Linked DNA regions of Homo sapiens: regions 1, 2 and 3 are each linked to region 4. The links come from fine-mapping of genetic effects on gene expression. Tissue or cell type: whole blood. Region 4 holds a variant in brackets; each other region holds the start of a gene. Each region is shown on its reference strand, or each on the opposite one.

Region 1 (8,008 bases), not on the chromosome of region 4:
CCTGATAAAAGGCATCCACAAAAAACCTGCAATGAACATCATACTAAAATGGTGAAAGACTGACTGCTTTCCACCTAAGATCAGGAATGATGAGAGAGTGTCCACACTCAACTCTTCTATTCAACAGTACTAGAGATTCTAGTCACAGCAATAAGGCAAGAAAAGAAATGAGACACCCATATTGGAAAGAAAGAAGTAAAACTGACTTTACTTTCAGATAACATGATCTTCTATGTAGAAAATACTGAAGAATCTACAAAGTACTATTAGAATTAATAAACAAGTACAGCCAGGCCACAGGATACAAGATCAATATACAAAAATTGATCATATTTTTGCATACAGCACAGAACAATCTAAAAATGAAATTAAGAACATAATGCTAGATAGTATAACATCAAAAAGGATTTAGTACATGACGGGTAAATGATAAGAACAGACATTTTACCAAAGAAGATATATGAATGGACAATAAGCACATGAAAAGTGCTCAATATCATTAGTCAAAAATGCAAATTGAAAATGCAACGAAATATCATTTCACAGCCACTGAACAGGTTATAATAGCTAAAACAGACAATGACACATATCGATGAGGATGTGGAGAAGTGGAAACCCTCATACATTGCTGAGAATGTAAAATGACCAGCCACTTTGTAAAACAGGTTGGCAGCTTCTCAAAATGTGAAGCACAGAGTTCCAATAGGACCCAACAATTGCACTTCTAGGCATATAGCCAGAAGAAATATTATAAGAACCTATCATACATAAATGCTTGTGCATGAATATTCATAGCAGTGTTATTTAGAATAGTAGAAAACTGGAAACAACCTAAATGTCCAATAACTGGTGAATGTACATCCATTCAATGGAATATTACTCAGCAGTGAAAAGAACTACTGGCATGCCCCACAACATGAACGAGCCTCAGTTATGCTCAGTGAAGGAAGCCAGACACAAGAGACCACATGCTGTATGATTCCATTTGAATGAAATGTCCAGAAAAGGCAAATTTATGGAGACAAGAAAATAGATTAGTGGTTGTCTGATGCTGGGGTAGAAATGAGGATTAACTATAAACAGGCATGAGGGACCTTTACTGGGGGGGATAAAAGTGTTCTAAAACAGATTTATGGTGATAGTTGCACACTCGGTAAGGTTACTGAAACTCATTGAATTGTACGCAAATAGGTGATTTTTTATGATATGGAAAATGTACCTCAGTAAAGCTGTTACCAAAAACTAAAACAAAAAACAAACAAACAAAAAAACAAAATAAACACACAGTTGTAAAAGCCCTCTGCCCTTTGGATGTGCTATGGGGTAGAATGTTCAGCCTCTGCTGTCTCCTGTTTCTGAGCCATCCCCTTATGGCGAGAGCCACCCATGGCCCTTGGGTGGGCAAGAGGCCTGTAGCTCCCTGGCTGAGTCTGCAGAGGTTTGGGGACACCTAGCTGCCATACTCCCCCTTCATCCACCCTCATCCCGGGGAAATCCCAGGGAATATAATCTTGCCTTGGAAGCCTTTATAGAACTATCCCACACTGAGAATTAACCCAATCAGATGCAGCCATTTGTGACCCAGTGAGCATTAACTGGATGCCTGCTGTACAAACAGCACTGTGTGTCACGCAAGGAATGTGTAAGCGGACAGGACCAGATTTCACTTCTCACTGGAGAGGCAAAAATCCAAAAAGAGGAAGCTAAGAATGGTGGATGTGTTAAAAGAGAACAAATACCAAACAAATACCAGCTAATGGAGACATACGTGTCTCCATTAGTTGCCACAGCTCCTCTGTATTGTGAATTCTGCCAACCTCTCCATTCTCCAGGGGAGGGAGCTATGGCTTTAACTAGTTATGTGGCTTGTGGAAGTTCCCATAGCTAATAAGTAAGTGTTGGATCTAGGACTCCAACCTAAGCAGTCAGGCACTAAACTCCCCTACTCTTACCACTGGGCTAGCCTGCCTATTTAGGTTGGCAAAGTTAGAGACAGGTTGGAGATGGGGCTAGAAAAGGGTCTGGGTCAGATCCTGGAAAGTCTCCAATGCTGATCCAGGGAGGTCTTATTCAGGATGCAGTGAAGCTGTGACTCACGGGAGACTCTCCCTAGGGCAGGGGCAGAGTGAACTGAGACCTGGGAACAGGCAGAGAAGCTGTGGCCAACGAAGGCACCAGGGAAGGGCTAGTCTGAGTGGAGAGAGGGGACAGCACTGAGAACAGAGAAGGGGGCAGGGAGCTGGTATCAGAAATCAGCTTGGTAATGGGTGGGTTCTGGGGGTGAAGGGAGAGAGTAAAATGGAAGACCATGCCTCAAGCCGGAGGTGGGGGCTGAGCAATGACGGGAACCTGTGGGCAGAGTTCATTTCTTCCCCTAAGAGGAGCTGAACCAGAGTGACTAAAGGACCGCTGAGCTCCCTTCCAGGATTCCCAGTCCCCAGCCCCCCAAACACCAGGTGAAGTCTCCACGCTCTTACCTCCCAGCTCTGGAGCTGTGTGACCCACAAGCTCTTACCTCCCAGCTCTGGAGCTATGTGACCCCCTGAAGCAGGTCTAGGTCTGGCCCCTCCAAAATCTTCAACCCCACACTTGTATTCAGTGTCAGGCACTCAGATGCTGCCCACTGGACCTGGCTGGACACTGGCCAAAACACACATTCTGGGCAGACATGCAGTGCGCTGGCCTCCAAGGCAGGGGCCAGGACAGGAGTTACTCTCCCCACCTACCCACACAGCTCATGATAGGGCCCAAGCAGACTGCTCAGACTGATGGGAAACCTCATGAGTGCCTCCCAGCCCATGGCTCCAGGGCTAAGCAGACAGACTCCTCCACCCAATGCTCACACGGCTTAGATCCAGCTGGCCCCACTCACCCAACTTCTGTCAGCCTGGACACCCACGGGGAGCAGGGCAGGAATTCCACAGGGCAACTGCCACCCTTTCCTCAGGAAGGACAAGGGTTGCAATGGCACTTTGGGGTACAAGCCACCATCCCAATTGACTGCAGGATTCAAACTTCAGACCTCAGTAGGCGCCAAAACAACTAAAGATCCAAGTGAATATAAAACCCAGTGGTGCAACTCTGAGCCAGAATCCTGGACCACAGCCCATGACCACTTCCAGGAAGGCAAGGCTTCCTTCCTCTCCTGCCCCTCCCAGGTGGCCCTAACCCTGTGCAACAGGCCACTCGCCAGGGAGCTTGAGGGGAAGAGAACAGTCGGGTCCTGGCCAGTCCCAATCTGTCTTAGAGAAGAGAAGGATGACCAACACCCATGGGAAGGAATTTGGAGCAGGAGACCAGAAGGGCAGGGACAAGGATGGGTTTGGGCTCCCACTGCTGCTCTCTATCCACCGCCACCTCTTCCATCCAGGAAGCTCCCAGCCTTAGGTAGATGCCGTAAGACAAGTGGAGGCTGCACTGGGCTGGGGAGGTGTGACACCTGGGCTTTCACTGTGCCCCTCCCACTGCCTAGGTCCTGATGCCCATCACAGCCCTTTCTGCTGCGGCCTGGGACCTTCCCCTCCCGGTGCTGCAGGGAGCTCCGCACTCACGCATTTAGGTCACTAATGTGCAGCGCTGGGGAGTGCCCTCTGAGCACCCGAGAAATTACTTTGGTTATGGAACTGACAATTGTTTCCTTCCTTCTACTCCTTCCTTCTGTTTGGCTGACATTTCCCTCTCAAACCCTCTGACACAGGGTTCCATCAGGAGCACCGCACCCCTCCACAACCCTCTGCCACGGAAGGTGTGCGAATGCCCCATCTCCTCCTCACAACCCTGTGGACCCATGGTTAGGCCGTTTCTTTAAGTGAAGAAACTAAGTCTCATAAAGGCTCGGTCTTGCTGGGGTCTCACAGTCCTCGCAGGAGCTAGGATCTGGACTAGGGTCCTTGAGCTAGTCGCTCACCCTCTCTGAGCCTCACTTTCCTCCCAGGTAAAACGCATGTCACAATACAATGGGGACCAAATCCTTAGGCGGGACACAAAGGGACAGGGGCCTGGGAGGCCTTTTGAGAAGCTCTGAGCAGAGCTAGGCGTGCCCCGATCCGGCTTGAGGAGCCCAGCTCCTGTTCCTCCCCATGTGGGAAAGAGACTGGCCCCGCGTCCGGGCCGCCTCCCGGCTGTAGGCGCTGGGACCGCGGGGCGCAGAGACCCCGCGCCCAGCCAACCGGACACAGGGACCAAAGCGCCTAGCAGACAGGGCGCAGGAGACGCCCATCAGGCGGCTCGCGCCCCCAGGCACCTGCACTCACCGAGGGCCCCGAGGAACAGCAGGACGAGGAAGACAAGTTTCATGTCTGCGGTCTGGAGGCGACTTGGCAAACGAAGGCTCTGCCACTTGCGCCTGCCCTGCGCCCCTTTATTCAGGGCTTTGCCCCGCCCTGTTGCCCAATAGACACCCCTTCCCTCCCCACTCCCCGCGGCCAGGTCTACTTGTTCCTTGAGGATCCAGGCTCCGAAAAGCCCTGAGGCAGGACAGGACTCCACACCGCGCTGCGAGAGGAAAGCCAGCCTGCACCTCACCTGTCCTGGTTCTGCCTGGCTGCTGCGATGTTCTTTCTCTCCCACTAGTCTGCAAGCCCCTAGGAGTCGCAGCCCCCTGAGCCCTGTCCCAGCTCTGGTCTCAGTGCCTTCTAGAGGGCAGGACACAGAGCAGAGGGTCTTTACTTGAAGATCGCCTTGACCTGTGAGACTGCTATCTTCTTCAGCAGATGACCTTGAAGGTGCCTAGGAGCCAGTTAGGGCAGGTGGATTTGCTTTCACCTTGGCTCAGCAGTGAGCTGAGAGTTGAAAAGATGACCCGACCACCCCCAGCAGCAGCCTAGGGACAGCTGACAGAGAAAAGAGAGGCTGCCCAGAGTCTCAGGCAAGCTGCCCATGGGGTATCTCCCTGCCCTGCTGAGACCCACAATACAGCTCCCAGAAAACAGACAGGGACCTCAGAGGGGAATGGCCACCACCCAAGGCTGGTTCCATGTTCTTATTTGCCAATGAGAAAGATGCCCTATGGCTAAGATGCCCTACCACTTTTTTTTTTTTTTGTCTTTTTTTTCTCCATCTCCTCCTTCTTCTTTTTTGGTGTTGATAGTATTCAGTAGGAAATGGTAACCTCATTTTAACAATCGCCATAAATGTCAGATTTTAAAATTCAAAAGCTAGAATACTGCTTCTAAGAATACATCTCGTAAATACATTCCCATGACACACAGCACCCCAGGTACAAATGTTTCCAGGCACCACTGCATGCCATTAATCAGTTGGAAGCAAACTAAACATCCATCTCTAGGGGAGTGTCACATACAGCATGGTGCCTGTGGGACACATTGGGGGCCTCAGAAAGAATATCCTGTGTGTATGGATGTGAACTTAGCCCAAGAGTAACTAGGCAGGGCACAGTGGCTCATGCCTGTAATCCCAGCACTTTGGGAGGCCAAGATGGGAGGATCGCTTGAGCCCAGGAGTTCAAGACTAGCCTGGGCAACATAGGGAAACCCCCATCTCTACAAAAAATACAAAAATTAGCCCAGCATGGTGGTGTATGCCTATGGTCCCAGCTACTTGGGAGGCTAAAGTGGGAGGACCATTTGAGCCTGGGAGATGAAGGTGGCAGTGAGCCATGATCATGTCACTGCACTGCAGCCTGGGCAATAGAGTAAGACTCTGTAACCCCCACCAAAAAAAAAAAGGGTAACTAAGTGAAGAAAAAAGGTACTAACAGTGAGGGAAATAATAGGTCACCTGAACACCTTTCTTGGCAGGTGAGTCTGACCAATATGTGACTCTGAAATCTGCTTATTCTGAAAAGCTGGTCTTGACTCTGCTTAGACTACTTGGTACTAAAAAGCATTTCCTGGAGCAGATAGGCAATGCCCCAGGGAGCCAGCTCTGCCAAGAGTGAGCATGCAGTGGGCACCTAGCCATGGAGAAGCAGGCTCAGCCCAAGGTGGAGAGGCCATTAAGGAGGCTGGGGAGCCCCTCCATTTCTGGGCATGATCCTGCCAAGGCACAGGGTGGAGGCTAATCAGGGATCATGCTTGCCTGCCATGAGACTGGGGTCTGAGATTTGGTGCTAGAATCACCAGCTGGGTTTTGGGGTGACAGATCCAAGGTCTCTCATTGTTTGGAAACATGATATTGCACCATTTAAAGTTGCCATCATCAATAATTGCAATAAGTTCTTTCAAAAATACTGAAGAAATACAAAATTGACTAATTCCCAGGAGTGCTGAAGCATCTTTGTACCTAAATTGGCAACAAGACTTTGCCTTTTCATCATTATAAAAGAATTAAGAAACATCATAACCCGTGTCTCTTTTTCTGAGTCCAAATTTTAAAAAAGGATGACTGGGAGGTCAGAGGGCCCTGGGCCCTCTTAAGTATGTTACAGTGTTGGCAAGAACACAGAGAACCTGGGGCCACTACCAAGAGGCTCAGCTTAAGGAGTGCCCTGAAGGCAGCATGGGTAGGCAACAGGGCAGACTGTTTTCCTGCTGTGCCTGTTGGAACAGCCCAGCCCCAGGGCAGGGATGTGAGCATCTGGACACAGGCAGAGCAGCCCCTCAAGGCCATTTGCAGAGGAGGCTGATGTAGGGGATGAGTCTGCCCCAAAAAACAATGAAGTTTCACTGATCTATTAACAGCATTCATTCATTCATTCATTCATTCATTCATGCCAGAACTGGTAGATGCCATGAGAGACAGAGAAGAGGGGTCTGTCCTTGCCCTCAGGAGCTCACAGCACTATGGGGGAGGGACAGTCACAGGAATGCACTTCTATCACAGAGGCTCCCTAAGAAGAGGCCAAGCAGCATAAAGCAAGTGAGTGTGAGGGCCCAGAGGAGGAATGACCAGCACCCATCATGAGGGCTCCAGAAGAACTCCAGGAAGATTTAGCCTGGGTACCTGAAGGAAGGGTGGGATTTCTACAGGTAGAGCATTCTGTAAAGTAAACAACCAAACAAGTAAAGGCTTGGGAGCATGAACCCAGTGACCAATTACCTGAGCACTAGGGACAACAAAAGTTCCCTCTGGCTTTCTGGCCAGGAATTCTTTTTTTCTTTTCTTTTCTTTTCTTTTTTTTTTTTTTTTTTTTACCGACAGGGTCTCCCTCTGTCACCTAGGCTGGTATGCAGTGGTGGTGCAATCACAGCTCACTGCAGCCTTGACCTCCTGGGCCCAAGCGATCCTCCCACCTTGGCCTCCCAAAGTGCTGGAATTACAGGCATAAACCATTGCACCCAGCCATGGCTTGGAACTCTTGTTGGAAGAAGGATTAACAAAATCCTCCTCCTCTATCCTGAGCTCCACATCATGTGTTCATCTGCCTCTGGAAAGGTACTCTTGCAGGTCCTGAAGGCGCCTAAATTTAATGCATCGAAAATGCAACTCACCCAGTCCCTCCAACCCTGAACCTTTTCTCATATTTCCTACCGCTTTCCACCAAACCCACCAAAGAGCCGCAGAGGCACCCTCAAATCCTTTGGCCAGTTAGCTCTGTGCATGTTATAGGCACTTGATGATCAATATCGGTTGAAGGAATGAATAAATGAGGAAGAGGAACAGGCTAAGAAAGGGACAAAGGATCCTGTTTGTAATGTGTTGGGTCTGAAGGATAGTGAGGGTCAGGGCTGCCTAAGCCAGGCCATGCCAAAGCCTGTGTACATGGACTCATTAACTTACCCATTCATTCAACACTGGTCTATGGGACATCTCCAACGTGCCAGGAGTTGGGTCAGATCTCAAAGAGCCTGCAGGGAAGCAGAATGCAGGTTTCCAAATGCTGAGACAGTAACATGAGTTTAAGGAGCACAAAGAAGGTAGCTGCTGTGGAAACTGCCATGCAGTGGCAAGAGCTAGTGTTCAACAGGCAGATGTGTGAGGCTGACTCCCTTCCCCCTAACCCTGCTCTGCCCCCACCCTCAAAACTCCTCCAGGGAGCCTTTACAGAATTGCAGGCCCAAGCCCCATTAGCAGGCAACAGTCTCTGGCCAACCTAAGTCCTCCCTGC
Region 2 (8,008 bases), not on the chromosome of region 4:
CCTGAGTCTGGGCAGAACCTGTGATTGGCATTCCCTGTCTGCCACAGGGTATAAGCATACCCTGCCCCATGCCCCAGGTTTAGGGAAGGAAACGTCTGCCTTTGAGTATATATTCAATACATTGCTCCAATGCATTGCTGTCTACAAGGTTGGGGCTACTGTCCCAATTTTTGCACGAGAAAGGTTCAGGGAGGGAGGCAATTTACCAGAAGTTAGCTCTTGGCCTGAGTCACCCCAATTTTCTATTTTTGAGTCAGGGTCTTGCTCTGTTGCCCTGACTGGATACAGTGGCATGATCACAGCTCACGGTAGCCTCCATCTTCTGGGCTCAAGCAATCCTCCCACCTTAGCCTCCCAAGTAGCTGGGACCACAGGTGCACACCACCATGCCCAGCTAATTTTAAAATTTTTTTGTAGAGACAGGGCCTCGCTCTGTTGCCCAGGCTGGTCTCGAACTCCTGTCCTGAAGCACCATGCTTGGCCAACAAAGTTACTATCTCTGGGAGCACACTATGTTTACTTCTGAAGCATTAACCTAACAGGTCACATTAATAACAACAAAAACAATTCACATGTACTGGCCACAGACCATGTTGTATTTGACCCTCACAACAATTCTACAAACTAGACATTGTGATGATCATCCCTGTTCTACAGATGAGGAGGCAGGAGAGCAGACACATCGGTATGCAGATACACAGCTGGTCGCAGCAGGGCTGAGCCAGGAACCCAGTCAGCCTCATGAGGGAACCTGGGCTCTTTGCCTGCAAAGCCCTGGGCTTTCTGTGCTGACTATAGATTCTGGGCACAGGGAGGGACAGGGACAGTGACTCACCCACAGAGACAGAGGCTGGTGACGAATATGGTTCCTGGGATTCCCATCCCAGGACTCCCTCCCCAGTGCTCCCCAAGGGGATGAACAAACTGCCTGCTTGGTTCTCTACTTTTCAGACAAGTTGGCCATTCTGATGAAGGCTGTCTCAGGGGCAAGCAGGCCTGAGGAGGTGGGTGCTTCCACCAGGACAACCAGGGCTGCAGACACGGAGCCAGAGAGGGAACGCAGAGTGGGGGCTAAGCTGGGCTTTGTTCGCCAATGGGGGAGGGATTGTGGAGTGGGAGAGGGTAGCTCCAGCATCTGCTCATCTGTGGAAAGTCTCTCAGAGCCTTCAGCAGTCCCAGTGCACCAGGTTCCCTGATCACATTGTGTAGGAGTTGGAGCCTCCTGGGTCTGCAGGAGAGGAAGGGGCCACTTAGAGAAGTCAGGGTGGGAGATTCAGAGAGAGAGAGGAAAGAGAGAGAGATAGAGAGACAGAGGGACAGGGGCTGCCCAGGCCTTTGTGAAGGGACATTTATCTAGCCCTCAAGTCTTGATGTGGAAAAGCCTAACTTTTTTTTTTTTTTTGAGACGGAGTCTTACACTCTTGCCCAGGCTGGAGTGCAGTGGCGCCATCTCAGCTCACTGCAAGCTCCGCCTCCTGGGTTCACACCATTCTCCTGCCTCAGCCTCCCAAGTAGCTGGGACTACAGGCGCATGCCACCACACCCAGCTAGAGACGGGGTTTCACTGTGTTAGCCAGGATGGTCTCAATCTCCTGACCTCATGATCAGGCCACCTCGGCCTTCCAAAGTGCTGGGATTACGGGCGTGAGCCACCGCGCCCGGCTAAGCCTCACTTTTCTTTTCTCATTCCGCCTTGCCTAGAATCTTCTGATCACTCTATTAATGGGGTGAGCCATTATGAAAAAGGCGAGCTGGTGAGAGCCTCCTTTCTCCCTCTCTAGGAGGAAGGGGCAGCCATGGGTTCTAAAGGTCTGAAGTCAGCCGCCCTACCTCAGGTAGTGGACACCGACCTGCATGTGCCGAGGGCAGGACTCACTCCTGGAACCTGGGAAGCCTGGACCTTGTGCGATGGCCCTGAGAGGGAAAGCAAGTGCCCCTGAGTCCAGACTTCTGCAGTTGTATCAGAGGGCCTATGCAAGCTGCTTGGGCTCTGGCTGATTTCATGTGAGGGCGTGTCCAGCACTGGCCGAAGTGGAACGTCCTCTTGAGGCAGTTGGAAAGGGGCTCTGAATATGCCAGATCTGACCTAGAGGAACACAGGAGCATGCAGCTCTCACGCCCTAGCCTAAGGACTAACATTGCCATCTGCTTCTCCCCGGTTTGGCTTCTTGGGGATCCTGAAGCCAGTCAGAAGGGTGGAGGAAGCAGGAGAGCCCTGAGAGGTCTGATATCCCTGGATGGCCCTTTTCCCAACAGCCATAAAAGACCTGATGTGCAAGCCCTGCTTGACCAACAGGCCACTGGGGCAACACTTGAACTGTGAAACCAGGTTGCACAGAAGCCCACTTCTTCCTTCTCTCAAGGCCAGGTGTGCAACCGGTGGCCTTCGTCCAGGCTTCCACCTTCCAGGAGCCCTGCTGTCCAAGCCCCCAAGTGTCCCACAGGCCAACTGAGGTCAAGAGGTACCCCAGGCCTCAGGGCCACATGGCCAGTCCACAGAGGAGCTGGGACCGGAATTTGCCTCATGGACGCTGGACCCCTCTATCACTTTGGCCCTTTATCTCTCCTGGCTGTGATCTCTCCCTCTCCCAACACCAGCCACCCATCCCAGCTTGGTGTCTCAGCTAGAGCACCAAACAGGGAGTAATTTGAGGTCGAATCAGGAGAGACTTCCTGGAAGATGTAGGGGCAAAGAGGAGATTGCTGTGCCTGGTTGGAGGTCAGGGAAAGCTTCATGAGGTGAAAGGGCAGGCCAAACAGAAGGATCGGGGCAGAGCTGGGAGAAAGAGCAGGAGGCTCAGATGAGCCTATGTGATGGGGGCATACGTGACAGTCTGGCACTTGCAGTGTGCAGGGCTGGGGTGAGGGCAGTGGGAACCAAAAGGCCACAGGCCCTGATGCCAGCCTAGGGGGTGTGTGGGCTCCTGAAGGTAGAGGGTTGAAATGGCCAAATTGGTGGTTTAAAGGAACCCCTGGACAACGGTGTGGAGGGTGGACTGTGGTCTGGGGAGAGCCTGAAACCTAGAGAAGGTGGAGTCTGGAGGCTGGGGCAGCATTGCATGGGAGAGAAGATGGCGGCAGGAGCCAGGCAGGGGTGGAAGGAGAGGCCAGAGGGGAGTGCTTTCGGGAGGAAGGAGCCAAAGGTGCTTCAGGGCTCATGCAGTGGGCACTCAGCAGAAGAGCAGTCAAGGAGGCCCAGTGGGGACAACCGGGACGTTCATGGGAGTCTCGAACTCAGAGATACAGACTGGGTGGTGTCTGCCTATTATAACTGGTGTCCTGGGAGAGGGCGTCCCCAGGGAAACCCGAGGCCAGGGAAGAGAAGCAGCCCAGGAGGTGACCCCACACGCTCTCAATATTAAGAAGACAGCCCTTAGGGGAGACCAAGAAGGAGCCACCAGGGAGGCAGGAGGGACAGCAGGAGAGTGGCATCAGGGGAGACCGGGGCAGCAAGAAGGAAGGCTCACCAGTGCCTGTGCAGACAAAGACCAGGCTTGAGGGTGGCCATGGACCAAGGGTGGGTTGGCCAGCCTTCAGTGGCCTTCAGCATGAAGAAGAGTGAAAAGATGGGGTCAAGAAGCGTAGACAACCTTTCCTAAGACTTGGCTTGGGAGAAGCCATGGTGAAAGGCCATGTCTGGAGGGGCTTGGGAACATTTTGAGACTGAAAAAAACAGTGAAGAAGGATGCAGAAGGGGATAGATGGAGCAGAGCCTTCGTCTGGCTGACGGCTGGGTCCAGAGAGCATGTGGTATGGCCTTGAACTGAAAGGGCAACTTGTCCCTTGCAAGAGTGAGTCTCTAGGTTGGGGGTGGCTACTGTCTTCATTTACCAGTTCTTTTTTTTTTTTTTCATACTGAGTCTCACTCTGTTACCCAGGCTGGAGTGCAGTGGCATGATCTCAGCTAACTGCAACTTCTGCTTCCCGGGTTCAATGGGTTCAAGTGATTCTCATGCCTCAGCTTGTAGCTGGGACTACAGGTGTGAGCCATCATGCGTGGCTAATTTTCATATTTTTAGTAGAGATGGGGTTTCACCATGTTGGCCAAGCTTGTCTCGAACTCCTTATCTCAGGTGATCCGCCCACCTTGGCCTCCCAAAGTGCTGGGATTATAGGCGTGAGCCACCGTGCCCTGCCTCATTCATCAATTCTTAATCGATGCCTACAGGGTGCCAGGCAATGCCTAGAGCTGGAGATTTAGCAGTCCATCATACTGACTCCTGAGGAGTAGAAGGATGTAGAATAGGCACCTGGCTCTCTTCCTCTCTGGAGGGATTTAACGCTCTTGAGCACCCCTGGCTATGACAATCTCCGGTCAGGTCTGGGAGGTTGTCAGAGATGAAGAAACCACTTCCTCATCTTGCACACAAGGAAGGCCTCACTCACTGCCCAGCAAGTCCTGTGAAGCAATAGCCAGGGGCTAAAGCAAACCCCAGCCCACACCCTGGCAGGCAGCCAGGGATGGGTGGATCAGGAAGGCTCCTGGTTGGGCTTTTGCATCAGGCTCAGGCTGGGCATAAAGGAGGCTCCTGTGGGCTAGAGGGAGGCAGACATGGGGACCATGAAGACCCAAAGGGATGGCCACTCCCTGGGGCGGTGGTCACTGGTGCTCCTGCTGCTGGGCCTGGTGATGCCTCTGGCCATCATTGCCCAGGTCCTCAGCTACAAGGAAGCTGTGCTTCGTGCTATAGATGGCATCAACCAGCGGTCCTCGGATGCTAACCTCTACCGCCTCCTGGACCTGGACCCCAGGCCCACGATGGTGAGCTTTGGGGGACATTCTGCTCTGCTCTGGCTGGGCTTGGCCACGTGTTGTTCCTTCTGCTCCTGCTGCACTGCCTGCCAGGAGGGCATCTCCCCCTTTAAATGTGGTCCCGTGTTTTCCAGGGAACCTTCTAGAGCTCGTGTCTCCTCCCAGCTCGAGAGCTTCCTGCCTTATAATTCCTGCTGTGGCAGAGATACCCTCACCCCGACCCCACGCAGGTTTTGGGACTTCTGCGAGCTCCAGGCACTAGAATGGGGTCATTGGCTCTGGGCAGTGACCTCCTCTGCTTTAAGTCTCTTCTGTACCACGTTACCCCACATAGGGAAGAACTCTATCCAGACTTTAGGTTCCAGTGGGCATGTCTTGTCCCCCAGGAAGCCCCCTGACTTCCCTTGCCCCCACCCCAGAGTGGGAGGGGCTCCTTGTTAGAGCTCATCTGAGGTCTGCTCCTACTCACTGTTCACCTAGGAGGGTAGGAATGGCTCAGTCCTCCTCCCCTCAATGCCCCAGTGCCAAGCCCAGCACCCAGTGCCCGTCGCACATCAGGTACTGTGGAAAGCCTGCCCTCTTGGTGGGGAGGTCATGGACACAAATCAGAAAATACAAGAATGGGCCTCCCCATTTCCTCCTCTGACTAGGATGGGGACCCAGACACGCCAAAGCCTGTGAGCTTCACAGTGAAGGAGACAGTGTGCCCCAGGACGACACAGCAGTCACCAGAGGATTGTGACTTCAAGAAGGACGGGGTGAGGCTGGGGGCTGGGGGTGTTGGTGGGTGCCTCCCAAGGAGCTGAACAGGGGGCACCTGGGGAATATTTCCCACTGGGATGTGGCTGGGAGGTCATGGCAAATGGTTTCAAGTTTGACCTTGAGCTTCTCCTTTCCAGCTGGTGAAGCGGTGTATGGGGACAGTGACCCTCAACCAGGCCAGGGGCTCCTTTGACATCAGTTGTGATAAGGTGAGTGGGCTGTTCTGGGATGCAGGGGCTGATGGGGGCATAGAGTGTGGACCATCCAATGGGTCAATTAACTACTCCCCCAACCCAGGACAGAGAAAGCCCCTCCTACCCAGGGCTCTTCCCCAAACCTGAGTTCCATCTCCAGGGCCGGCTCTGGAATCCCTTAGAGCGGTAGATCTCCAAGTGTAGCCCTTCCTGGGGACTCGTTAGATATGCAAATTCTCAGGCCCTACTCAGACCTACTCAGACAGACTCTGGGTAGGGCCCAGAAATTCGTATTTTGATAAGCTTTCCAGGAGATTCCGGCTTCTGTAAAGTTTGAGAGCCACTGTCTAAGAGTACTCAGCTCTCAGCCCTGTGTTCCCATCTCAGTGTTGCTGGGCTGGGCTGTGTGACCCTGCAGAGCCCCTCACTATCTCCGGGACTCTGTTTTCTCATCTTTTTATTGGGTGTAGGGATTCAATCACATGCTTCAAAGGTCACAGCCAGAGGTTGAACTGGGGCCCCAAAGCTCCTGCGGGGGCCCACGAAGAGGGGCGTCTAGGTGGGGAGGGGTCTTGGATTGACCCTGGGTACATCCCCGACAAGGAACCTGTTTCTTCCTGTACACAACCCCAGGATAACAAGAGATTTGCCCTGCTGGGTGATTTCTTCCGGAAATCTAAAGAGAAGATTGGCAAAGAGTTTAAAAGAATTGTCCAGAGAATCAAGGATTTTTTGCGGAATCTTGTACCCAGGACAGAGTCCTAGTGTGTGCCCTACCCTGGCTCAGGCTTCTGGGCTCTGAGAAATAAACTATGAGAGCAATTTCCTCAGGCTTCAGTCTCACTTGTTTTGCCTCCTCTCTCTCACCACAACTGAGCCCTTAGCTCAGGGAGTCCACGTGTGAGTGTGAGTGTGTGTGAGTGTGACACAGAGGTGGCGAGGGCAGTGTTCCATCCAGGAGGACACAGGGTAAGGCAGTAGGGCCAAGAGATCCAAGATGGCATTCCCATTCTCAGTGGAACCCCCAGTGGGGAATTAAGGAGCTCTACTCTGTGTGTGGTGGTGGGGGAATGCTGTGGAGCTGTTCCTGCTCATGGGGAGGTGACATTCAAGGGAGGGGCCAAGCGTGTTGTTAACACTCAGAGAAGCATGGTCCAGTCCCATGGGTGGCTGGCCAACTGGGTGCGGTCTCCCTGCAGGTACAATTCCCATAAAATTCCAATGCTTCCTAAAAGACTTAACTCAGGAAAGCCCATAACTCCTGGCATTTCCTCTGGCATTGGGACACATCACAGTTTCTTCAGGTGGGTAGCAGATTTAACTTGTGAGCTTGTGTTTAGGGATTGTTAAAAACAAGAATATGGCCAGACGTGGTGGCTCACACCTGTAATGCCAGGACTTTGGGAAGCGAGGCGGGTGGATTGCTTGAGGTCAAGAGTTTGAGACCAGCCTGGGCAACATAACAAACCCTGTCTCTACTAAAAATACAAAAATGAGCTGGGCATGGTGGTGCGTGCCTGTAGTCCCAGCTACTCGGGAGGCTGAGGTGGGAGGATTGCTTGAGCCTGGAAGGCAGAGGTTGCAGTGAGCTGAGATTGCGCCACTGCACTCCAGCCTGGGTGACAGGGTGAAACAAAGGTGACTGGGCTCATAAAAACCAAAAACCTGCCAGGCGTGGTGGCTCATGCCTGTAATCCCAGCACTTTAGGAGGCTGAGGCTGGTTGATCACCTGAGGTTGGGAGTTTGAGACCAGCCTGACCAACATGGAGAAACCCTGTCTCTACTAAAGTGGCAAAAATTAGCCAGGCATGGTGGCACATGCCTGTAATCCCAGCTACTTGGAAAGGCTGAGGCAGGAGAATCGCCTGAACAGGAGGCGGAGGTTGTGGTGAGCCAAGATCGTGCCACTGCACTCCAGCTGGGCAACAAGAGCGAAACTCCATCTCAAAAAAATAAAATAAAATAAAATAAAAACCAAAGACCAAGAATATGTTGGGTGTGGTGGTGCACACCTGTAATCCCAGGTACTTGGGAGGCTCAGGTGGGAGGGTCACTTGAGCCCAGGAGTTCAAGGCTGCAGTGAGCTATGATCATGCTAGTTCACTCCAGCCTGGGCAAAGGAGTGAGACCTCGTCTCTAAAACAAGCAAACAAACAAAAAAAGGAGAATCCTGCTCAGTGGAGTGAGGTGCTGTGGCTAGAAGAGACATGCAGAGTGTGACACACAGGTCGCGACTCTGTTGTGCTGGTGTTTCAGACATGGATCGTGTTCTCCCCACTCACCATTCTGTAGCCACTA
Region 3 (5,000 bases), not on the chromosome of region 4:
CAGGGACTCCCCCAAGCGCTGAGCAGTGTGAACACTTGTGTACCCTCATTGGCTAGGGCCCAATGAATGGGGCCCAGTGGAAAGGGGGTGGGTGAGGAATGGGGCCCCAGTGTCCTGTTGACCCTGGAGCCCTTGGAGTCGGTCAAGTCTGAATGGGAGGTCTACACCACAGTCCTTACCCAACCTTCCTAGTGCTGAGTCCTGAAGCTTGTGTGGTGGGTCTATGTAGAGCTGACCCCCTCCCTGCAGCCCTGCTAGACTCTGAAGAGAGCCAAGGCCAGTGGGTAGGAGACAGGTCTGGAGCTGGTGCAGAGAGAGGAATGAGCCCTGCATGGGTTTGATCAGAAACTCAGCCTTGTGTAGGGACACCCTGGGGCCCGGTGCTGTCCATGCATGACCTCACAGAAGCGCAGAGCTGCCCTCTCTACAGAGGAGCGCCTGATTTGTGTGGGAGCTAGGCAGAGATCTGCATGCATGCGGAGGAGCCAGGCTTCAAGCCAGCCTGGGGGACCCCCAAGCGGGACTATCTCCCCTTCTGCACCTGGCTCTGGTGTCTTCCCACTGTGGACCCAGTGCCCTGCTCACCCACCACATTCATACCCTGGAGTCCTGGGTCCTCAGAGATCCATGACACTGCCTCACCCCCAACTTCAAATTCTCTGGGGCTCCACCCGCTGGTCTCAGCTACGTGAAGCAGTCACCGTAGACTAGAGGGTACTTTTTAGATTTAGGTCACTCTATCATCCAGGCTGGAGTGCAGTGGCACAATCATAGCTCACTGCAGCCTCGGCTTCCTGGGCCCAAGTGATCCTCCCACCTCAGCCTCCCCGAGGATACGTGGTTTTTTTTTTCTTTTTTCAGACAGGGTCTCACTCTGTCTCCCAGGCTGGAGTGCAGTGGTGCGATCTTGGCTCACTGCAGCCTCCGCCTCCCGGGTTCAAGCCATTCTCCTGCCTCAGCCTCCTGAGTAGTTGGGATCATAGGCATGCATCACCCCACCTGGCTAATTTTTGTATTTTTAGTAGAGACGGGGTTTTGCCATATTGGCCAGGCTAGTCCCTGAGGATACATTTTTTTTTTCCCCGAGATGGAGTCTCCCTCTGTCGCCCAGGCTGGAGTGCAATGGCGCAACCTTGGCTCACTGCAACCTCCGCCTCCCAGGTTCAAGCAATTCTTCTGCCTCAGCTTCCCGAGTAGTTGGGATTACAGGCATGCGCCACCATGCCCAACTAATCTTTGTATTTTTACTAGAGACAGGGTTTCACCATGTTGGTCAGGCTGGTCTTGAACACCTGACCTCAGGTTATCCACCCGCCTCAGTCTCCCAAAGTGCTGGAGTTACAGGCGAGAGCCACTGCGCCCAGCCGAGGATACCTTTTTTTTTTTTTTTTTAAGACAGAATATCGCTCTGTTCCAGGCTAAAGTGCAAAGGCGTGATCTCGGCTCACTGCAACCTCCGCCTCCCAGGTTCAAGCTGTTCTTCTGCCTCAGCCTCCCGAGTAGCTGGGATTACAGGCGCCTGCCACCATGCCCTGCTAATTTTTGTATTTTTAGTAGAGATGGGGTTTCACCGTGTTGGCCAGACTGGTCTCGAACTCCTGACCTCGTGATCCACCCGCCTCAGCCTCCCAAATGCTGGGATTACAGATGTGAGCCACCGCACCCGGCCTGGCAGAGGATACTTTTTAAGGTCAAAGACAGTAGCAGAGGTGGAGTTCCTGGGAACAGGGTCATGAGGGGAAGAGGGGGTTCGGAGGGAGCGAGTAGCCACTGGCTACCTCTAGAAAGGGAAGGCTTTGGTGCAACATCGTTCCCCTGCAGTTTTACTCATCTTTGCTTCCTGCCCTTTCATCATCCAATCGGGCAGGCAGGACAGGGCCTGAGGGGGCAGGGATCCAGTGGGTGCCTCTCTAGACTAACCCCAGCTCAGGACTCCCAGAGCCCCTTCCCTGAGGCCCTGCTGCCCCCAAGCCCAGATTGGGGATCCCAAGCAGCACGTAGGCAGAGCCAGTGAGGTCCCCGTTAGTCCCATTGAAAGCTCTAAAACCAGCGAACCCTCAGTCCAGCCTCAGGTCAGGCATCCAGGACGGCCTCAGCCCTCATGGGTGAGCCATCTCTGCGGACACTGCACAGGGCCTACGATCCATCGCTGCCTCCCGAGGATGCCAGCCAGGCCCCCGTTGAGATAACTGCTTCCCTGCTGGACAAGGCTGGGACCAGCCATCTCGGTGACAGTTCCAGAACCCCTGGCCTGGGCTGCTGGGTTCAATGGAAAAAGGCTGTGACTAGAGTCAGGGGGATGGTCTCAGTGACCTCAAGGATAAGGCCAGATCCTTGCACTGTCAGTGACCCAAAGCAACAGGTGTCCAGAGCAGCAGTGTGGCGCCTTCACGCCCCCACACATCAGCCCAACTCACCCAGGACAGGGACTGTAGCCTCAGCACTCAACCCATGTGCCCTGTGTGGGGTCTCTTCCCACTGCACTCACAGGAGAGGAAGGGTCCCTCAGGGGTCCACTGGGGTCCCCTCCTGCAAATGGGGCAAGGAGAGGGGCAAGGGGCTGTCTCAAGGCCCCTGGAGCACATGCAGGTCCTGGACTGGGGCTCCTGGGAGGGCCATGATTCTGGGCTCCATGAGTTCAGAGCAGACGCCTTGTTTTTCCTTGTCCACTGTCAGCCACCCCACCCTTCCCTGACCCTTAAAAGAACCAGGAAACAGCACATGATCTGTTGGAAGGAGGCATTCATTCTTTCCTTTCTGTGGGTGTGGGGAGGGGACCACAGGGCACATACCCCACCCTGGGATCCAGCTGAGCAGGGGGGTCAGAGATGACAGCTCTTCCGGCTCACAGGCCACCGGCCCACATACAGGGCAATCAGAAGAAAGAAACAGCACAAGGAAGGCACAGAGGGAGTCGTTGTCCCTGCCAGAGGTGCAGCACTCCGGGAATGTCCCTCACTCTCCCCGTCCCTCTGTCTTGCCCAATCCTGACCAGGTGCAGAAATCTTGCCAAGTGTTTCCGCAGGAGTTGCTGGCAATTGCCTCACATTCCTGGCCTTGGCAAAGAATGAATCAACCCACCCTAGATCCCATAAATAGGGCCACCCAGGTGAGCCTCTCACTCGCCACCTCCTCTTCCACCCCTGCCAGGCCCAGCAGCCACCACAGCGCCTGCTTCCTCGGCCCTGAAATCATGCCCCTAGGTCTCCTGTGGCTGGGCCTAGCCCTGTTGGGGGCTCTGCATGCCCAGGCCCAGGACTCCACCTCAGACCTGATCCCAGCCCCACCTCTGAGCAAGGTCCCTCTGCAGCAGAACTTCCAGGACAACCAAGTAAGGGGCCAAGAGGGGCACCTGCAGGCAGGGCCTGGGGAAGAGTGGGAGCAGAGGGGAGGAGAGGTGAAGAGACTCAGGAAGAGCGTTGGGCAGGACTCTAGGAGTCCAGGGTCCAGGTTTCAGCTCACTCTGTGCCACCAGGGTCCCCTGGTGGAAACCATGCCCCTTCCCCCCATCCCCACCCCCTCTCAGCCTGAACAGACTCCCCCAGGTCCACATCCCCTCTCCCATAACCCCCATTGTCCAAAGAAGGTGGGAGCACTTTTAGTCCCCCTGCACAGATGAGGAAACTGAGGCTCAGGAAGGCCCACCAGCCACATGCCTCCTCCAGTGAGGAGGTCACCCTCCTCCCTGCCAGACTCAGAACCGCCTCTTCCCCCAGGACTCCCTTCTGGACTGATGGCCTCCTGCTCCTGCCCCTTCACCAGTGCAGGCCCAGCCTGGGCCCTGCTGCCCAGCTAGAGGGGCTCATGGTTCCAAGCTGGGCGGCCCAGAGGTGCCACAGGGACAGAGCTGGAGGGGTGGCTCCTAGGGCCATTCCTGGGTTGTGCCTCTTATCAGTCCCTTGCAGTTCCAGGGGAAGTGGTATGTGGTAGGCCTGGCAGGGAATGCAATTCTCAGAGAAGACAAAGACCCGCAAAAGATGTATGCCACCATCTATGAGCTGAAAGAAGACAAGAGCTACAATGTCACCTCCGTCCTGTTTAGGTGAGGGCCGACATCTCCTGGGGGTGTGAGAGTCAGACTGACGTCACAGGCAAGGGATGGCCAAAGCTGAGGGATCCTGTCGTTCACCTCGCTGTTCTGCCCGGAATTCATCTGTGTTCATCCTTCCTCTGTTCCTTAGAGCAACGTTTATAGCACATTTCCATGCAGACACACAGACAGTGGTGGGGATGGACATGCACAGTCGTTAGAAAACAAGACGGAGAGAGGAGGGGTGCCTGGGAGCGGGAGGAGGGGACACTGGATCCAGCCTGGAACCCCACCCAGTGCCTTCATGGAAGGCTTCCAGGGAGGTGGCCTTAAAAGAGCCAACCTGCTTCAAAAGGAAATGTGGGGTGTTCCCGGCAGGGGCTGGAGTCAGAGAGAGCCCCCCCTTCAGGAAGGAGCAAGCCATCGCAGGGTCACCCTGAGCAGAGCTGCTGAGCAGCCTGGAGGGGCAGGTGGCCACGCTAGCACCTAGCACGGTCCTCAGGCCCCGCCCCAGCGGATCTGCTGCGGAGTGGCTTAGAGCAGGGCTCTTGGGCCGCAGGGTGGGGAGACTTGGTGGGGTGCAGCCTAGGGGGTCGGGAGACCAGCGAAAGTGAAGCGGGGCCGTCACAGGTGTGAGAGAACAGGCGCAGGGTGAAGAGGCAGGGAGCCAGGGATCAGCCGCCCCCAGTGGGTTTCTGACTCTGGCAGCTGAGTGGATTGGGATTGGGGCATTTGTGGAGCAAGGAGCAGAATACAGACAGGTTGGGGAGCTCAGCCCTGGGGTGCCAGGGGATGGGAAGTGGGAGGACTCAAGGATGGGGTCAGGTTTGACCCGAGAGCTAGGGGAACGGCTGGCATGGAGCAGACTGGAAGTACCGAGGTGGATCCCCGGGAGAGGGTATAGGAAGGGAAGCAGCAAGCTGAGTGCAGGGGAGAAATGCAGGGTTTCTGTGTGTTGGGTGGCGGGGGG
Region 4 (8,008 bases):
TTATATACATGTAACAAAATTTCACATGTACCCCATACATTTGTACAAATAAGAAAAAAATATTTTAAATGTAATCTACTGTTCCTGTGGATGGAGGTGACTTTTTCCATGAAGCCAACAATCTCAAGAAAAAAATTGTTAAATAATATGTAAAATGAAAGTTAACATCAGCTTTCTACTTCCTTAAGATGTCAAAAATAAGCCAGAATTTTTTAAACAAAGTTTAATAATTCATCTAAGTAAGTTGTCACTTGACAAATGGCAACATACCGTGAGGGAGTATTATAACTCTGGGACTTGGGCAGGCATGCAAGGTGCGATGAAGAAGAGATACCAACTTCACAGAGCTGCTGTTGGCTACTAAATACATCAAGACGTATGAAGCGATAAACCTGGTGCCTGGGCCATAGGAATGATCGACCTTGGTATTAAAATTTGGCATAGGCTAAGTGGAGATGGGTGGTAATGAGGTCATCCTTCATAAGTGTCCAGCGGGGAAGACAAGATTCAGGACAGCCATGGACATTTGGATGTTTATGACACCAGGGAACAAGCCATGATGAGAGCTTTTATACATTTTATCACATGTAAAACGTTTCGTGAATAATTAGGAATAAATATGAATCTTGTTATGTCTGTTTCTATTTTATCAACTTGGATCATTATTAAAGATGTTCTTTTTGCCTGTTTGCCAAATTATTTTGTTTTGAAAACAATTTTATAGCATTGCAATTGTGACAATTTTTTTCAAAATAAGTAACTCATAAAATGAATTTGTTTATTTATTTATTTTTGAGACAAAATATTGCTCTGTTGTCCTGGCTGGAGTGCAGTGGCATGATCTCAGCTCACTGCAACCTCCGCCTCCCGGGTTCAATCCTCAGCCTCCTAAATAGCTGGGATTACAGGCGTGCGCCACCATGCCTGGCTAATTTTCATATTTTTTAGTAGAGATGGGGTTTCACCATGTTGGCCAGGCTGGTCTCGAACTCCTGACCTCAAGTGATCTGCCCGCCTTGGCCTCCCAAAGTGCTGGGATTGCAGGTGTGAGCCACCACACTCAGCTCCATAAAATGAACTTAGATGTACTCAAACTTTCACATCATCTGTAATTACATTAAATAGTGATTGAGAAGAGTTAAAATTTAGTGAATGAATTGAGCTTATGTTTTTTAAAATCTTACTTTAATTTGATATTTTATGTTATACTTACACTAATATTAGCTAATAGTTTACTTAGCTCTGTAATAGCTTTTAGTAGGAAAAGTATTTTGAATGCAAAGGTATGCTGATGTATGTCCCACAGTAAGACACAATTAGACACTGATCGCTCATTATCACCAGTGACCTCTATGATGCCTGATCCAATCCCCAAATCTCAGTGCTCACATTACTTGACTTGGGTATGGGATGTCCATAAGATTCTTTGTCAAATCTGCCTCCTTTTGAGAGCAAAAGGGAGCCTGATAAGTAATAACACCAGGACGAAAGCAGATGTGAGCTGGGACCTTCCTGGGCAAGCCAGTATAAACGACTAACCCTATCCCACAGCAGCATTTGCTGAAGTTGCTCACTCTCTCCTCCTTGATGCACTTTCTTTACTTGGTTCCAAAATGCCACAGTCTCATGATTGTCCTCCCACTCGCAAGCCTCTCATTCTTGGCCTCCTTTGATGATTTCTCCTCTTCTCCCCAACCTTTTAATGTTGAAGTATCCAAGATATGGTCCTTGGTCCCCTTTTCATTTCTCATTACACTCAGGGCTTTAAATATAATCTGTATGTCAATGAGATGGTTTTAAAAAATATGTCCACCAACCCTTGTTGACTGGTTCTAGTGAGTAGATGATGGCAGAAATGATGGGATGTCATTTCCAAGATGAGGTTATAAAACTACTGTGGTTTTTATGTTGGGTACTCTCTCATTCTCTTTCGGCTCACTCATTCTGGGGTAAGCCAGGGGCCATGTGAGGTTCACAGGATGAGGATCTGAGGTTTATTAACAGCCACACAAGTGGGCGTGGAAGTGGATCTTCCAAGACCTGCACCACCTGTGTGAGTGAACTTGGAAGCTGATCCTTCCTCAAACTCGCCTTCAAATGAGGTAATGAGGTCATCCTCATTACCTACTAGACTACCTGTTAGACAGGACTGCAGCCCTGTCTAACACCTTGACTGCAGTTCTAAACCAGAACCACTCAGCTACATGGCTCTCAGAAACCCAACCCACAGAAACTGTGGGTTAATAAATGATCCTTGTTGTAAGCTGCCAAATCTTGGAGCAAACTTGTCCAGCAATAGAAAACTAATATGGGCGACTCCAATATCCAACTGCCTCCCACCATTTTCCTTCAGACGTCTAACAGCATCTCGAGCCCACACGTCCAACACTGAACTGCTGATCTCACAGGTCCAGAACCTGCTTCACTCCACCCTTTCTCATCTCAGTGGACGGCAACTTCATCCTTTATTATATTATAACTCTGTGACTTGGGCAAGCATGCAAGGTGCGATGAAGAAGTGATACCAACTTCACAGAGCTGCTGTTGGCTACTAAATACATCAAGATGTGAATTCCAGGCCAGGGAATTTCAGTCCTCTTTGATTTTTCCCAAAAGGGGAGAAAGCCCCACCTCCAATTTGGCAGGTTGGTCTCACCTTCAAAATGAACTAAGAATCCAGTCCCGTCTTACCGCCTCAGCTGCAGTTTCTCCAGTCTGAGCCACCATCATCCCATGCCTGGATTTTCTGCAGTCATCTTCTAACACTTCCCCTTCTTCCTACCCCTGGCATCTCCCTGAGCCCTACACTATTTTCAGCAAAGCAGCCAGACCGAATCTTTTAACACAGAAGTGAGATCATATTATTACTCTGCTGTCATTTTTTTCAATGGCTTTCCATCTCACTCAGCAAGGAAAACAAGCCAAAGCCCTGCCAAGGCCCATGAAACTCTGTTTGATCTGCCGCCCGCCACCTGCTGACCTCCTCCTCTGTCCTCCTGCTCTTGCTCCCTCCCCTCCATCCCTGCAGGCCCGCCTGCAATTCCCCGATGTGCTTGGCACGCTCCACTCTCTGGCCTTCTGCTCTTGCTGTTTCCTCTGCCATGAATGCTCTTCCTCTGGATATCTGCTTGGCCAACTCCATATTTTTG[C/T]TCAAAACTCCCTTTTGCAATGAGGCCCACATAGGCCACTCCAATATTGCAACTAACCACTCTCTTGCTGTGAATTGCCAATTCCCCTTGCCCAACTCTCCTTTCCCCCCATGGCACGTACCACCTTCTAACAGACTAGATCATTTACTATGTTTCTCATCTATTTTCTACCTCCCCTGGCTGGCACATAAGTTCCACAAGAGCAGGACTCCTTTTCTATTTTATCCCAAGTACCTAGAGTAGTGCCTGACAGTATACCACAACCTATGGAATACAGCAAAAGCAGTACTAACAGGGAAGATTATAGCTACTAAGTGCCTACATCAAAAAGGAGGAAAAACCTCAGATAAGTAATATAACGATACATCTTAAAGAACTAGAAAAGCAAGAGCAAATGAACCCAAAATTAGTAGAAGAAGAGAAATAATAAAGCTGACAGCAGAAATAAATGAAATTGAAATGAAAAAAATACAAAAGATCAATGAAGTCAAAAGATGGTTTTTTTGAAAAGTTAAACAAAACTGACAAACTTTAGCCAGACTAAGAAAAAAAGAGAAGATCCAAATAAATAAAATCAGAAATGAAAAAGGAGACTTTACAACTGATACTGCAGAAATTGAAAGGATCATTAGTGGCCACTATGAGCAACTATACGTTGATAAATTGGAAAATCTAGAAGAAATGGACAAATTCCTAGATACACACAACCTACCAAGATTGAACCAGGAAGAAATCCAAAACCTGAATAGACCAATAACAAGTAATGAGATGGAGGCCATAATCAAAAGTCGGCCAGTAAAGAAAAGGCCAGGACCTGATGGCTTCACTGCTGAATTCTATCAAACATTTAAAGAAGAACTAATACCATTCCCACTCAAACTATTCTGAAAAACAGAGGAGGAGGGACTACTTCCAGACTTATTCTGTGAGGCCAGTGTTACCCTAAATTCTTCAAAAATCAGGTTGTTGGATAGTTCAGCCTTTGTGAAATGAGAAAGGCAGGTTATGTCCACAAGTGAATGAGAGCATGGCATGAAATTCACACTGAATTTACACTTTCAGCCTAAAACAAATAAAGCGATTTATTTAAATTCACAGAAGATGTGGGAGATGTACTTTTGCAACTTTTATTTTAAAAAATAATGTTGAAGTTGTGTCTATTTTATTCCAAAACATGATTTTTGGCAAAGAAATAAGATCTTTTGTGGAGCAAAGTGAATGTTATTAAATATAGGTAAATGCTGGTAAATATATCCAGTAAAGGTCTTAAGCTTGGATGTTCCTTAAATATGTCTGATGATTTAAAATATATTAAATCCATCACAGGGGGCAGCCAGGGCCAGCTCCATGAACAGGTGACCTGTGCAGCCCCTGGGTCCCCAGGCTTGGAGACCCCTGTGGTTGGTTTATCGTTCTGCTCCTGCTGTCTTAAAATTCCTATTACTCTTTGAAAAAAGGGCACTGTCTTACAGATTGTGTAGCCGGTCCTGGGGGTGGTTATTATCAATTGTGAATGGCTATTGCCTCAATGGAAAAGAATATTTCAAAACCACTTGGGCAAGTTATGAAATATGCCTTTGTATGTCATACTGTTTATAGTAAAACACAACTGAAAACACTTCCCTTCGCCTGTGGAGTCACTGGCTGTGCTGTTCTTGTCAATGGATTGCCAAGGCTCTCCTGGACGTTTATTCGCTGAACCTAATTGCACAGATCTGAAAACAACCATGTGGTCATAATTCACAAGGCTTTAAAAATCAGGTATCTAGTCCTATAAAAAACAGTAAAACTTCTTTAAGATAGTTCCTCATTACACATATTGGAATATGGTACCAAGTATATCTTGAAAACTTACAGCTGAAGATTATACTAAAAATAGAAAAATTAAATAAATTTCCCAAACACATGAGTCTCACTCTTTGAATTCAACAAAACCAAAACACCACACAAAGTAAAGAGTCAATCATGATTCCTTCCCTTTGTCCATGAAGGCTGGCAGATTTTTTAAAAATTAATTAATTAATTAATTTTTTTTTTGAGACGGAGTCTCGCTCTGTCACCCAGGTTGGAGTGCTATGGCTGGATCTCAGCTCGCTGAACCTCCACCTCCTGGGTTCAAGCCATTCTCCGGCCTCAGCCTCCCGAGTAGCTGGGATTACAGGCGCCCGCCACACACGCCTGGCTAATTTTTGTATTTTTAGTAGAGATGGGGTTTCACCATGTTGGCCAGGTTGGTCTTGAACTCCTGACCTCAGGTGATCTGCCCGCCTCTACCTCCCAAAGTGCTGGGATTACAGGCGTGAGCCACCGCGCCCAGTCGAGGCTGGTGGATTTTAAACCTTTCTGCTACATTATAAACTCTCTGAGAGCTTGGACTCTGACTCCAGAGTATGGCAAAACGGCTTGAGTGGAGCAGACCCTCTGTGTGCCGGGAGCCATTAGCTAATAAGTGATTGAGATTCATTTCAGGCTGGTGGAGGAGACTGAGATCTCTTCTCTGGTCTTCTCTTTTTGTGAGTGGGTGGGGCCTCAACCCTTCTTGGAAAGCACATCAGAAAGCGACTCTACTTCATAGGAAACACTGCACACACGTGCCAGCCGGTTCTAAACTCTGATCTTGTAGTTATTCTTTCAATCCCCACCCCAATCCATCCTGTGAGGAAGATGCTATTTTTATCTCTACAGACGAGAAGACAGAGACACATAGAGCTTAGTCACAGTTGGTAAATGGCGGAGAGGAGATTCAACCCCCGCCTGGGTTCCAGAGTCTGCGCTTTGATCCAGTTTCCCGGGGCCATGTCCCCCAGCATGGAGAAGAGCTGGCTCAGGAGGAGGGGGCACAGCCTCCCAGGTGGTCGGAGCAGCGCGGGCGGAGGCGCAGAGGCAAGAAGGAGCTGGTCTCTTTGAGGGCGAAGGCGGTTCATAGGGTGTGTGCACATCTAATCCCTCTCCTTCGAGAGTGCCGCCACCCTCATTCTTAGGGAAGGGGCGGGGAAGGGTTCCTGGGATCGTCATCCTACCTAAGCACCCCAGTGAGTGTTCAGTTCCCTGCCGCAGCTAGTGCCCTGTGCCCAGTGGGAAGCCACGTGGCCAGGCCTAGCGAGATCTCCGGGCGCGGTGGCCCGTGTGTGCCTCTAGCCAGGCCGCCGTGGCCAGGGCTTGGTGGTGTGTTTGACGCTAACCTTCCATGTCAACTCTGTGCGTTTCCCCAACACCCCGCACTGACCCTGTCCTCCTGGCTGCTGGTGACCCCTGACTCCCTGCCTCCTGACTGCTGGTGAGCATGCTGAGTCTGTTTAGAGGGGCGACTCGGGGAGTTCCTGAATGCAAAGTGAGGGGTGGTTCAGGCCACACACCTGTGAGTGCCCTGGGTACCAGCCCGCGGCCCAGAGCCTGGCTCAGGAGCTCAGCTGGGGCGCTCGCGGAGACTGTGACAAGTGTGCGTTCTGAGCCGTGGCAGGATTTCCCCAGCTGCTGTTTGTGCCTCCCCGGGGCTTTCTCAGGTCTCTGAAAACAACATATCCCGGGCTGGGATACGGGGGGAGGATGCCAGATGGGTTTTGAATTCTTTGAAATCTCCAAGCACCTAAAAAAATAATCACGGTGGGTAGGTGTGGGAAGCTCTTTAAAATGTGGCACATTTCCCCCAAAGCTTAAAATAGAGCTTTTCAAGGGAAATTAAATGGAAGTATAAAAATATGTAAATGCTCTTCCTTCCTACAAAACAGAAATAATGTTACAGGCATCACCCCGGGGCCCCAGGCCCCTCCGTAGTCAGCACCAGCAGTGCCAAATATGGCCCATGGCTCTGGGTTTCCTCCCTATATTGACTCTGACCAGGGACATCAACACTTCCCCCAGGGGACCCCACTATTTCTCTGATATGTTCTATTTGCCTAATGTCTGTGTTTATCCCTCGTTTTTTTGTTTTTGTTTTTAAACTAGTGTGGGATTTTTAGAAGGTTGTCACATGTTCCTTGGGCCTGTAGGTTTCTTTGTGAAAAATATACCACGTCCTGGGAGTTGTGGCTCCAGTCCAGAGGCTGCTCTAATGCACACATTGAGGAGGTGTTCATTGCAGAGCTTCCCAAAGAGAAAAATGGTGCAGGTCATGTTAACTCAGTTATCGACTTTCTCAATTTCTGATTTCAACTTTATTGCTATAAACACATTATTCACTTTTAGTCAAACCAAAAAGTCAAGTTTGCATAGGGCTTTTTTTTTTTAAATGATGGATTTTCTTTACTTTTCTTGTCCTAGTTTTCTACCCACTACCTGTGTGATGTTGTCCCAGGGATTCAGCCTCTGGGTGCTTTGCTTGTCAAAGAACAGGGAAGAAGGACGGAGCCACCTAAGCCTGTGCAGGCTGGAAGCGCTGGTAACGTGGGCCAGGCTGGGTCCCAAGCTCTGGGGCCCCTTGCAGTGCCCTTGGGTGTTGCTAGGGTCTTGGAAAGAGATTGAGTTTTAGGAGAGAGCAAAGCGATGACTGCCACCAACTCACCTCTGCTTGGCAATGACCAGCCAGTCCCTGAAGAGGAAGAGGTGCCTCCTGGTGGTCTCAGGGCCCTGGGTCAGCACCATGGGGCTGTGAAGGACAGGCTCAGCGTGCTTGAGGGGCAGGCCCAGCTGCAGGGACAGCTGCTCGAGGGTCACTGCGGATGCCAGGCTCTTCCTGAGGGCGGGGGAGAGTGGGATCAGTCCTGAGGGAAGAGGGTTCCCCAGGGAGCTGGCGTGCAATGCCTGTGATGTCTCCAAACACCAAGTCACCACTAGTGTGGCTTAGTCAGAGTGGAAATCAGCAGGAAAAAAGTGCAGACTTTTTTTCTTAAAATTTGAACTTAAACAAAATGAATTTACAA

What was found. PIP is the estimated chance that this variant, and not a neighbour inherited with it, causes the effect. A credible set is the group of variants that fine-mapping cannot tell apart.
Region 1: it holds the start of LTF, and the variant in region 4 is fine-mapped to the expression of LTF in whole blood (TOPMed, PIP 0.97).
Region 2: it holds the start of CAMP, and the variant in region 4 is the best candidate, but not a certain one, in a credible set for the expression of CAMP in whole blood (TOPMed, PIP 0.69).
Region 3: LCN2 starts here. The variant in region 4 is fine-mapped to the expression of LCN2 in whole blood (TOPMed, PIP 0.97).

What each region holds. Positions count from the first base shown.
Region 1 is chr3:46,460,572-46,468,579 of GRCh38, forward strand. It overlaps LTF (lactotransferrin), which reads right to left and starts at 4,334. Exons shown (of 17, transcript NM_002343.6): 1 at 4,254-4,334. The coding sequence starts at 4,296.
Region 2 is chr3:48,218,951-48,226,958 of GRCh38, forward strand. CAMP (cathelicidin antimicrobial peptide) reads left to right here and starts at 4,545. Exons shown (of 4, transcript NM_004345.5): 1 at 4,545-4,762; 2 at 5,404-5,511; 3 at 5,653-5,724; 4 at 6,343-6,535. The coding sequence starts at 4,562. The coding sequence ends at 6,474. RefSeq lists enhancers at 3,890-4,009, 4,030-4,159, 4,170-4,219 and a silencer at 4,229-4,523.
Region 3 is chr9:128,146,333-128,151,332 of GRCh38, forward strand. LCN2 (lipocalin 2) reads left to right here and starts at 3,121. Exons shown (of 7, transcript NM_005564.5): 1 at 3,121-3,331; 2 at 3,906-4,042. The coding sequence starts at 3,194. RefSeq lists an enhancer at 1-341 and a silencer at 4,471-4,520.
Region 4 is chr6:159,088,079-159,096,086 of GRCh38, forward strand. LOC112267968 reads right to left here. Exons shown (of 5, transcript XM_047419645.1): 3 at 7,651-7,821. Among named protein-coding and RNA genes, the nearest start is that of TAGAP, 47 kb to the left of the region's middle. RefSeq lists an enhancer at 6,625-6,754. The variant C/T (reference allele first, on the strand shown) is at 3,150.